2 separate regions of the Homo sapiens genome follow, and region 2 is reported to be linked to region 1. The links are microRNA targets in miRTarBase. Many come from high-throughput screens and were not tested one by one. Region 1 holds a microRNA gene; the other region holds the end of a gene's coding sequence.
What was found. Region 1 holds the annotated microRNA hsa-miR-641 (AAAGACAUAGGAUAGAGUCACCUC, at 2,535-2,558, opposite strand). A microRNA usually pairs through its seed, bases 2 to 8, with sites in the 3' UTR of a target mRNA and lowers its output. Matches are read on the target gene's strand: a 7mer-m8 pairs with bases 2 to 8, a 7mer-A1 pairs with bases 2 to 7 and ends in A, and an 8mer does both.

Region 1 (5,074 bases):
CCTGAGCCCAACCAGAGACCTGGGTGCTGGGCGCCAGTCACAAGCCCTGGTCTTTCCAATTCCAGAGGAGCACTGGGAATGGCGCAGGCCTACAGGCCCACGGCAGCGTGGACGCAGGGTCAGCGGGTGCTGTCTGTATCAGGTGTGACTGCTGCCCTGCGTTGCTATTCAGTATTAGTCCGGCTGGTTGGGTTGGGGAGGAATGGGCAGAGAAATCAGCCCAATGAGCCTCCCCTCCTCTTTCCCTAAAAGTAACAGCCACGGGCTCTGGAGAACACGGTGTGAAAACCACAGGAGGGAGGCAACCCTCAGGCCTTTGCTGGCTGTAAGGCAGTGATGCTACTGGAGGGGAAGTGGGAGGCCTGTGAAACGCCCTGCTCCGCTCAGTCAAATCTACCCACGCCCCCAGGCAGGAGCCTGTGACCGGCTCCTGGGTCACCTGCTAACACCCTGAATCTGACCAGGCTGTTCCTGCTGAAATTCCAAACTCCTTCACAGACAGTCCACAAGGCTCCCAGTGAAAGGGCCCTGCCTGCCCCGCAGCCCCAGGACTCATCTCCTCCCTGCTCCCTCGCTCTGCCAAGCCACACAGGCCTCCGTGAGGCTTGTCCCTGCACCTCACCAAGCTCTGTCCTCCCTTCAGACCTTTGCACTGTGGTTCCCTCCACCTGGAGGGCTGTTCCTTCTCCTCCCATCCCACATGACTGCCTCACCTTGCCAAACTGGGATCAGCTCAGAGGCCCTCCCCACAGCCGCATGCATCTAAAGAAGTGCCCAGTCTGTCACCTGATTTGAATTCGCTGCCTAGCTCCTCCCCCTCTAACCGGCTCCTTGCTTATTAACCTGTTTCGGGTTGGTCTTGCTTAGCCCCACAAGGATAGGGACTTTGGCAAGTACACTGCTGTATTCCCAGTACTGATGCAACGCTGGCACATACGAGGTGTTCAGTAAATGGTGGCGGATGAGTGAAACCTTTTCCTCGGCTCCACAATACCCTTAGGATCCATCCTCACCTCTCACCCAGGCCCACAGGCCAGTGCAGCACAGCCCCTGCCAACCCCTGCAGGCACTTCTGCTGCTCCCCCTGCCCAGGCCCAGCCTTCCTGCCACTCCCAGAGCTGTGAGCTGTGGTGGGCTGGGAACCAGGGGCAGTGGCATGCACCTACGGTCCCAGCTACTCAGGAGACTGAGGCAGGAGGATCACTTGAGCCCAGGAGTTCAAGACTAGCCTGAGCAACATAGCGAGACTCCCGTTTCCACAAAAAATTTAAAAATTAGCTAGGCATGGTGGCATGCACCTGTAGTCCCAGCTACTCAAGAGGATGAGGTGGAAGGATCACTAAAGCCTAGGAGGTCAAGCCTGCAGTGAGCTGTGATCACACCACTGCACTCCAGCCTGGGTGACAGAGGGAGGCCCTGTCTCAAAAGAAAAAAAAAAACAAGCACAGAGCCTGACCTCTGAAAAGACTCCAGTGTGTCTACCTTGGAGGCGCTCAGGGCTGCAAAGCCACTGCGTGGAAGAGGAGTGGGCCCGGGAGCTGCCCTTGTCAGTTCTGACTTGATTGCATGTCTCCCCCGACCTCTGTTTCTGCATCTGTAAAACTGAGATGCTAATTTCAGCCCTGATCTCCTCCTAGTGCTCTCTGACACGGTTCTGTGAACTGGCAAAGGCCTTCAAAGTCCCGGCAGAAATACTAAGAATTACAATTGCTAAGACAGACCAACAGCTCACCATGTGTCGGGCACTGTTCTTAGTGAGGAGACATTTCCGGTAGGCTTATTGTATGCCAGAACAGTTATGAATGCTTCCCACAAATTAATCCACTCAGCCTTCACAATAATCCTATCAGGTGGGAATTATCATCATCCCCATGGCACCGATGATGAAATGAGCTCACAAGGGTTGGGGAGCCTGCTCAAGGTCACACAGCCATGGAGTGGCACGGCTGGATTTGAACCCTGTGCTCTCACTCGCTTCCATACACCTCTTTACAGAGGCTGGAAACCAGAACATTGAAGTTCTGGATCCTAGCTGGGCCAGGCTGGGGAGCTGGATCCCGGAATGCTCGAGGGGACCAAAAGTAGGGGGTGGGGGAGGCTGGATGCCTCCGTTCCATAACATAATCATGACTGCCAACCAAGACTTACACAGTACCAGGCACCATTCTAGGAGCTTCTCGTGGATTAATTCATTTAATCCTCACAACAGCCCAAGGTGGACGTCCTTCTGAGACCACTGTATGGGAGTGAACAGTGTGGTCCAAGGTCGCAGAGCTAGAACCGACTTCACCGTCCTGCTGCTAGCTAACGCAGGTCCCTGGTAGCTGTGTCACCCCCTGCATGGCTCTCTTGCTGTCTTCTTCTCCCAGCACACACCTGCCCAGGGTTAAAGGATGCCTTGCCTCCACTCTGAGGAGGGACCAAGAAATGCTGGACTGGCTGTAGGCAGAGATGCTCAGGGCAGCCTGAGGCTCAGGGGTAAGAGGAAGGAAAGACATAGGACAGTCACCTCTATAGGTAGAGGACAGAGGACAGAGGTGACTCTATCCTATGTCTTTCCTTCCTTTCACCCAGCCTGGAACCTGGTGAGCAAGGAATGCATGGCACTAGGGGCTCAGTGACCTGGGTTCAAATCCTACCCTGGCACCCATAGGGTCTGATAAGATGCGGTGGAAGGCAATTCTTCCTCTGAACTTCAATTTCGGACTCTGCAAAAAAGGACACAAATACCATATAAAGCCCAAAGCACAGGGCTGGGCAGAGTATATGCTCACAGACAAAAGCCACTCCTCCAGTTTCTCCTTGACAAGACGATCTGAGGCCAAGGTTGGCCAAGGGCTCACATCACACCTCTCCCACTTCAGCTATGAGACCTCTGGGAAATCTTTGCACTTCACAGTGAGTGAAATGATTCCTCATCTGTAAAATGGTATCACACTTCTAACTAGCTCGTAGCTCTCCATAAAATAGGCCTAACCACAGGTATGTTTTGAGACTTAAGTGAGATCACATGTACAAAAGCCCTGTCACACGCCTGGCATGGGGTGAATGCTATAAACACTGGGCATCCACTAGCTCTGGAAATGATCTGCCTCTCTGAGATGCTGTTTTCTCATCTAAAAGGGAGAGCATAACAACAGCGCCTACCGCTCTAGAATTCAAGTATTCAGCAAGTTTATCTATATGAAGCATTCCAAACAGTGTGTGGCCCACAGAATGCACTCAGTTACTGTCAGCCATCAATTTCATGATTACTGTTTTCACTGCCACTGTTAGCCCCATCAGGCAAACCCTCTAAAAGCTGGCAGGAGAGGACCAGAGGAACAAACCCCTAGTGGAGAAAGATTCTACAGAGTCGCCGCTGCCTCACAGACTGTGGGACCTTTCTCTCCAGGAACCACGAGCCACGGAAGCCAGTCAGCTTGGAAGTCACTGCTGCGGACTAGGGGCAACCATCTGCCCCCTCTGACCACATCACCAGCCCAGGTCTGCTGGGTCAATCAGGGACTGCAGCCAGTCCTCTGGGAACTCCAGACCCAGAGCAAAGGCTACAGGGCAAGCCAAGGTCATGATCTGGCCTAGGGAGCAGGGACACTGGCCACAGACCTCTGGGGCTGGCTGCTCCCAGCACCAGCCCACAGACCACAATAAGACACCAGATCCATGGGGGATCTGACTGTCCCAAGCCCTTCAGAGCAGCCTTCCTCCCTGGGCCAGGCTGGGCCAGGGGCACCCCCACTCCAAGTCCCCTTGGCCTATGCAAAGAGGAACAGCTGGGAAAACAGCTCCCGGCCTCACTGCAAGGCCAACTGTTACTGCCTTGGTGGGGAGTGTAAACATGATGTGTGACCGAGCTGGTAACTGGGAGACACAAACAGCTTCGTGGCCAGCGACAGAGGAGCATGTAGTGGTCTGCGTTGGTTCCTGGACCCTTCACATCCACTGCCAACCAAGTTCAGCCCACGAGTGAACTCCTGCTGCTTCTCTGGGAAGGTAGGAGTGGATGAAGTTGAAAAGCAGCCCATTGGAGGCTCTAGTTACTCCAGCCCAGGCGTCTTGCTGAGCCCCAAGAGGTCTCCAAATGAGAGGAAGAGGTCCTCACAATCCCAAGATCAAGATGCCCCCAGAGAGCTTCCCTGGGGGGAAGAGGTGTTCCCCCAAACACTCCTTCCTCCCAAGTTTTAACAAGCGGGTGCAGGGGCACGGCTCCTCAAATCCAAGCCCAATCCCTCTTCCTCTTCAGAATGTTAAGGCTCAGACAACTTCAGTGACTTCTAACACAGCTTTCCTCCCTCCCCTATGGAAGGAAAGAACTGTTACTGCCTGGTAAATAATCTGAGAGGGTAATGGAATCCAGAGCAGCACCTCCATGGTCCAAAGCACCCCAGTAACCATGACGTTCCCTCCAGAGTCGTTAAGAAGTTCAATAAAGGCTGAGATCAGTGTAAACCCCCAACGCCACACACGTCAAATACAGGAAACAGAAACCCCTCCTCACCAATCGGCATCACAGTCCTCCCAAAATACGCCCCTAAAACCCACTAGGGCCTGTCCCGCCCCGTCCCAGTCCCTTAAAGATCACAAACATCACAGTCCTCTGATTTGGGTTCCCCTACGTTCTAAGCAGGGCTCCCCCAACGCCGTGGTGATATAACCCAGCCACAGTTGGGGAAGCATCCTCCCCAGAAGCCCCCACCCCTGTAAATACAGCACAGCAACGGCTTCCACAGCGCCAAAAAGGTACAGCCCTCTACACTTGATGCGGCGCGCCCCCTCGATAGCTTAGCCCGCGCACGCCAGGCTCGATCTGCCCGCCGCGCCCGAAAGGTCCAGCCCCCGGCCCGCGCACGCTGCGGCCTGCGCTCCCCGTCCCGCAAACTTGCAGCGCTCCCCCCACCGCCTCAGTGGTATGGCCCGCCGCCACCGCCCCGGCCCCCCGAGGCTGGTCCCACCGCCCCCGCTCGGCCACCCCCACTCAGCTCCTGAAGGAGGGGCTCGAGGGCCGCGGTCCCCCCGCCGGGCACGGGTGGTACAGCCCATCGCGGCACCGCGGGGGGCCCGGACGCGACCATCG
Region 2 (5,074 bases), not on the chromosome of region 1:
CATATATTTCTCTTAAATAGGAGAAAGATTTTCAACAGCTTTTCCTCCTTGACCCCCTCCTTTCCCAATTTATTTGGGTCACTACCTTGAATTTAGAGTGAATCTGGGAAATGTAGTCACCAGGTAACCCAGCAGGGCCATATACTTGGGCTTGGAGGTGAGGTTAGAGGTTACTGTCTAATACAGTAGGTCTGGTTTCTATGAGGAGCTCATATCCACTTGCATAAGGAAACCTAGTCTATCCCAAATCACCTCCACCACAACTTCTATTCCTGTCTATTAGACCACTTCTCTTAAACCCGAGGAACCTGATGATTTGGGGGCAGGGATAAAACCATTATTTTATAAATGTGGCAGGTATGGCCTTCGTAATTCTAGAAGCTCCCGTTTAGGTAACAGAAACAAAATTTAGATGTAAGCATAAACTGCAGTTATTTGAGCAAACCAGAGCATATGTGCTGTTCAAATCCCACTTCACAATATACTTCAATCTCACCTCCAATGAATTCTCTTCCATAAAATAAACCATTCCACTAAGTATATACCTACTCCCACCAAATCATCCACATGCCTCATCACTAAAGTTGTCCCTTGTATAATCTACCAGCAAAAAGACAAAATAAAACCTGTGTTAAGCAAATAATCACTTAAACAGTAATAATATTGCCTCTAAATTAAAGGTAAGTCAGGAGCTGAACACTCAACTGTTAACTCTTCTGGGGAAGAAGAAAATTTTTCCCACAAAAGCAGGAGTGCAGTAGTAAGTAATGACTTTCTCTCAGATTCAAGTAACATCAGGTCAAGATAACCTTTGCTGTTAGAGTTTTGTTTGCATGGTGTGGAACTGCTTTATAAACTGAGTAGAGACGTATGCCAAAATTATTTTTAACCTAATTAAAAACTTTCACAGAAAACTTGAAGTGACTGATACTTTATCACAACGAACTGCCATTTAAACACTAGCATAGGTACACAAAAAGATTTATACTATGGTTTTCTTGGCTTTAAGCCATTAGAATTAGACAAAAGCAACCGAGAGTAACATTCTAAAAGTGGCTTCAACTACTTTAAAGACATGAGTCAGTTTTTGTCAGGTCATTTAATGGTTTCTTTCCTTCACAAAGCCACTAAATGCCAGAGTCAACACAGATCCCTGAGCCATAGCTCTTCTCTGAGGGGAAACAGGGTTATAATCAGTCACAACATTGTGGAAGACATTAAAAAAAGAAGGCAAAGTTCTGTATAATTTTCAAGACTCTTGTAAGTAGTAACACACAGCCATAAGCAGCCAAAATGCTTATGGTCCCTTTATTTCTTAATAGAGGGCTAGAACCGTTCATTTGGGGTAACACACTAATCTGGTGTTAAAAGAATTTCATGTGTTCTTGAAACAAAGGCATACTGCCACTGCTTCAAAAAAAGCCTTTGTGAAATGAAGAAAAATATGACAAACACAGGTTCCCACACGTACACATACATACAAAGGAACCTGCACACTTGCACACACACAGGCAGGTATAGGCACACAGTTCCACCAAAGCGAAGTCCAAATCAGAGTTCTTACCGATTCTACCACTCTGTAATACTCTCAGAAGTTCCCACAACTGCCCAACACCTCACCTACCCGTTTCCTGCTGCACAAAGTCTCCTTCACTCTCATCTTTTCGATACATCGTCAGGCAGGGCAGAAGGGCACTACGCCGCAGAGCATTCGAGGCTCTCAGCACACTGCCAGCCAGCGTGAAAATGCGGCTTCACTACAGCCCAGAGAAAAGGGCCAGGTTTAGTCATCGATCCAGATGCATTTTCCCGGGAAATGACCATTCCCAAACCCACAGAACAGTTTGGCTTCTCTGGATATCCTTATAGGAAATAGGGGTGAGAGGTGGGAAAAGCTTCTCAATCTCATACAGAAACAGCACAAATATTTAATACACCTTTTGCAACAAGATCTTCTCTGTTCTCCATTAAGCATCATGTAAATCTCACTAGTGTGGTTAACAAAATGGCTTTCCCCAAGGACAGAAGTCAAGAGCTTGTGGGGCCATATATTATCTAGTACTAGGCCATTCATTATCTCCTAGATTAACTCTTTTTTTTTTTTTTTTGAGGTGGAGTTTCACTCTTGTCGCCCAGGCTGGAGTGCAGTAGTATGATCTTGGCTCACTGCAACTTCTACCTCCAGGGTTCAAGTGATTCTCCTGTCTCAGCCTCCTGAGTAGCTGAGACTACAGGCACATACCACCACACCCAGCTAATTTTTGTATTTTTAATAGAGACGGGGTTTCACTATGTTGGCCAGGCTGGTCTCAAATGCCTGACCTTGAGTGATCCACCCGCCTCGGCCTCCCAAAGAGCTGGGATTACAGGTGTGAGCCACCAGGCCCGGCCTCCTAGATTAATTCTTGACATTTTTTGGATCAAGTAAGAACCACTGGAGCCTTTCCTGGAAAAAAGAACACATACTCAGTCTCACACACAATTTCTGGGGGCTCACAGACCCTCTTGAAGCCTATCCATAAACCCCCTGGTGAAGTCCCCCTGCCCGATAGCCTGAGGGAAGACATGTGAGTGGATATATGTGCACTAACAGGGGCGAAGACAGACCTGGATGGTCTGCAATCCCAGAGAGCATGAGGCACCATGTCCCAAAGCTTGGTATGTGGCCCTGGGCTCCTCCCCCAATTTTATCTCTCTGAAGAAGCTGAGTTTTTTTTTTTTTTTTTGAGACGGAGTCTCACTCTGTCACCAGGCTGGAGTGCAGTGGCACGATCTCAGCTTACTGCAATCTCTGCCTCCCGGGTTCAAGCGATTCTCCTGCCTCAGCCTCCTGAGCAGCTGGGATTACAGGCGCCCACCACGCCCGGCTTTTTGTATTTTTAGTAGAGACGGGGTTTTGCCATGTTGGCCAGGCTGGTCTGCAACTCCTAGCCTCAGGTGATCTGCCTGCCTCAGCCTCCCAAAGTGCTGGGATTACAGGCGTGAGCCACCACGCCCGGCCACGTTCTGAGTTTTGAGGATCCAGAAACAAAAGGCTGGAAAGCGACACTTCTACAGGTTTACTGATGAGTCCGGAGAAAATCCAAAAACAAAGCCCCACTGAGGGTTTGTGAATTTGGCTGTTCTCAGTGGCCAGGCAGAGTCTCTGCTCCACTCTTCTTTCCCAGCTAGCAGGGAAGTGAAGGCAAAGAACTGTCTCAGAAACAAGTCTCTAGGAAGTCTGCTTGAGGTCCTGAAAACTGTATTCAGATGCTTTATTCTAACCCCCTCTCCCCCACCATCTTAGTTGCTGCAGGGGGGTGGAAAACACCCCGTGAGCCCAGAGGAATATTCGATGGCTGCCATCGGTCTAGGCACGGCCATACAGTGGGAGAGATGGAGGCTGGCAACTGAACAAACCAAAAGGGTTCAAACCAACATTAGGCTTGCAGGGTCAGACACTAGAAAGGAAGATAAAGGTACACCTCCAGTTCAACAGCCTGACAGGATCTGTAACAGGTAGTGCCCAGGTTCAACAGCAGATGTAAAGGTAGACGTTAGGTCTACGCACTGCCTCACACTGAGCTTTCTATCCACATTTACAGAGATTTACTAGAAGTGGTGTCTGTAAGGACTTGTCACTATGTGATTTGCTTCCTGAATTCCTAAAAGATAGTCAGCAGAGCAGCCACTGTTTGTCAAAAATCTACTGTGTCCTTTAGCACTTAAAGCCAGCTCTATCTATAAAGCAAGAAAACAGTGACACACACTGCACATAATTGTTAAGAAAGAAAACTATTTGCTTCCAGTTTAAATACCCAGCTATTACAAATGGAGAAATTAAAACTGATCCTCAAAGTCTGGCACTTAAACAAACTTGTACTTAAAAGCCTGACTATAGGTTTAAACCATCATAAGAACATAAATTAAAAATTGCAAACTGAAATCAATAAAATATACATATGATTAGGGTCAAACTGGGTAACCAATTAGGATCTGTATCTTCAATAAACATCTGGAGAACGCAAATAGCATATATCACTATATGCCATGCTGTCCCAGAGAAGTATGGTTCCTTAACATTTGTCTAAATCTATTTAAAACCTCCAGCAAGAACTTAAAAGTGTAATTTATCATCCCATAGAGCTGCCCAGACTTATGCTAGGGGTATGCCTGGCTAGTAACCACTTTCTCCTTCCTTACTTCACCAAGAAAGGGAAGAGAGTGGCCTGTGTGGGGGGCCAATGTGAAAATAGTTCAACTAATGACTTCCCAACGTGGGAGGCAAAAAACTTCATGAATCAATTTTGCTGTCATCTTCAGCATGTCGTTCAATATGTCCTGCAGCATCCTAGGAATGAAGGGAAAAGGGCCCATGAGAGAGAAGTCGATAGTAAGACAGGAGAAAGTCAAAGCCAAGGAAAGCCATGTGGGTCCATTCCACCTAGGATCCAGACAGGAAAGGCAGTTAGGAGCCAGCACTTTGCTAACTTACGTGAAACCATGTACTTAAAGGTGAGCTGTTGTCTCAGCACAAGAGCACTGTAATAAATCTCCAGGTTCAGTTACTGGATTTGAAACATCTGAAAACATTCTCTTTAGGCCCTTTCTCAAAAATGACCTAATTCTTCATTTGCAACTTCATTAAGCTACCCCCCAAATCTCTGAATCATAAAAATAAAAAACCCTAGGCCCTCCCTATATATGGCAATTCTCAATAATAAAAAAGGTTTGCTAGCCCCTGCTCTGAGCAGTCTACTGAATCCCAGGCAAACCTCAAGTCCCACTAATGTACCTGTTTGGATCCTTTCCTAGCAGTGAAAAAAGCATCGCAGTTCTTCCAGCGACATTTCAGAGTCTGGAAGTTGGGATTAGTGTGGTCGGTCAGCAAGTGTTGTTTTAAATGATCTACAACGCCAAATATCAGAGAGCAACCATGCCACTGGAGAGAAAGAAAATGAGGAGACTCGGTGAAAAAGGGTGCAGTGAACGTGAATCAGAACAGCCCCCAGCTGGATCCCATAAGCACTATGGAAGCAAAAAGCCAGCCCCTTATTTCAAATTTATTCTTGGCTAGAAAAGACAACAAAGCCAA

Region 2: miRTarBase lists ZNF106 as a target of hsa-miR-641. Seed matches in the 3' UTR shown: 7mer-m8 at 2,561-2,567, 7mer-m8 at 1,212-1,218 and 7mer-m8 at 1,071-1,077.

The regions. Positions count from the first base shown.
Region 1 is chr19:40,280,069-40,285,142 of GRCh38, forward strand. MIR641 (microRNA 641) reads right to left here and starts at 2,573; the gene lies at 2,475-2,573. All of the region lies in intron 1 of AKT2 (AKT serine/threonine kinase 2), which reads right to left. RefSeq lists enhancers at 471-520, 561-680, 4,302-4,441 and a silencer at 4,812-5,074.
Region 2 is chr15:42,413,031-42,418,104 of GRCh38, forward strand. ZNF106 (zinc finger protein 106) reads right to left here. Exons shown (of 22, transcript NM_001366845.3): 21 at 4,775-4,921; 22 at 1-4,330. The coding sequence ends at 4,274. Among named protein-coding and RNA genes, the nearest start is that of CAPN3, 56 kb to the left of the region's middle.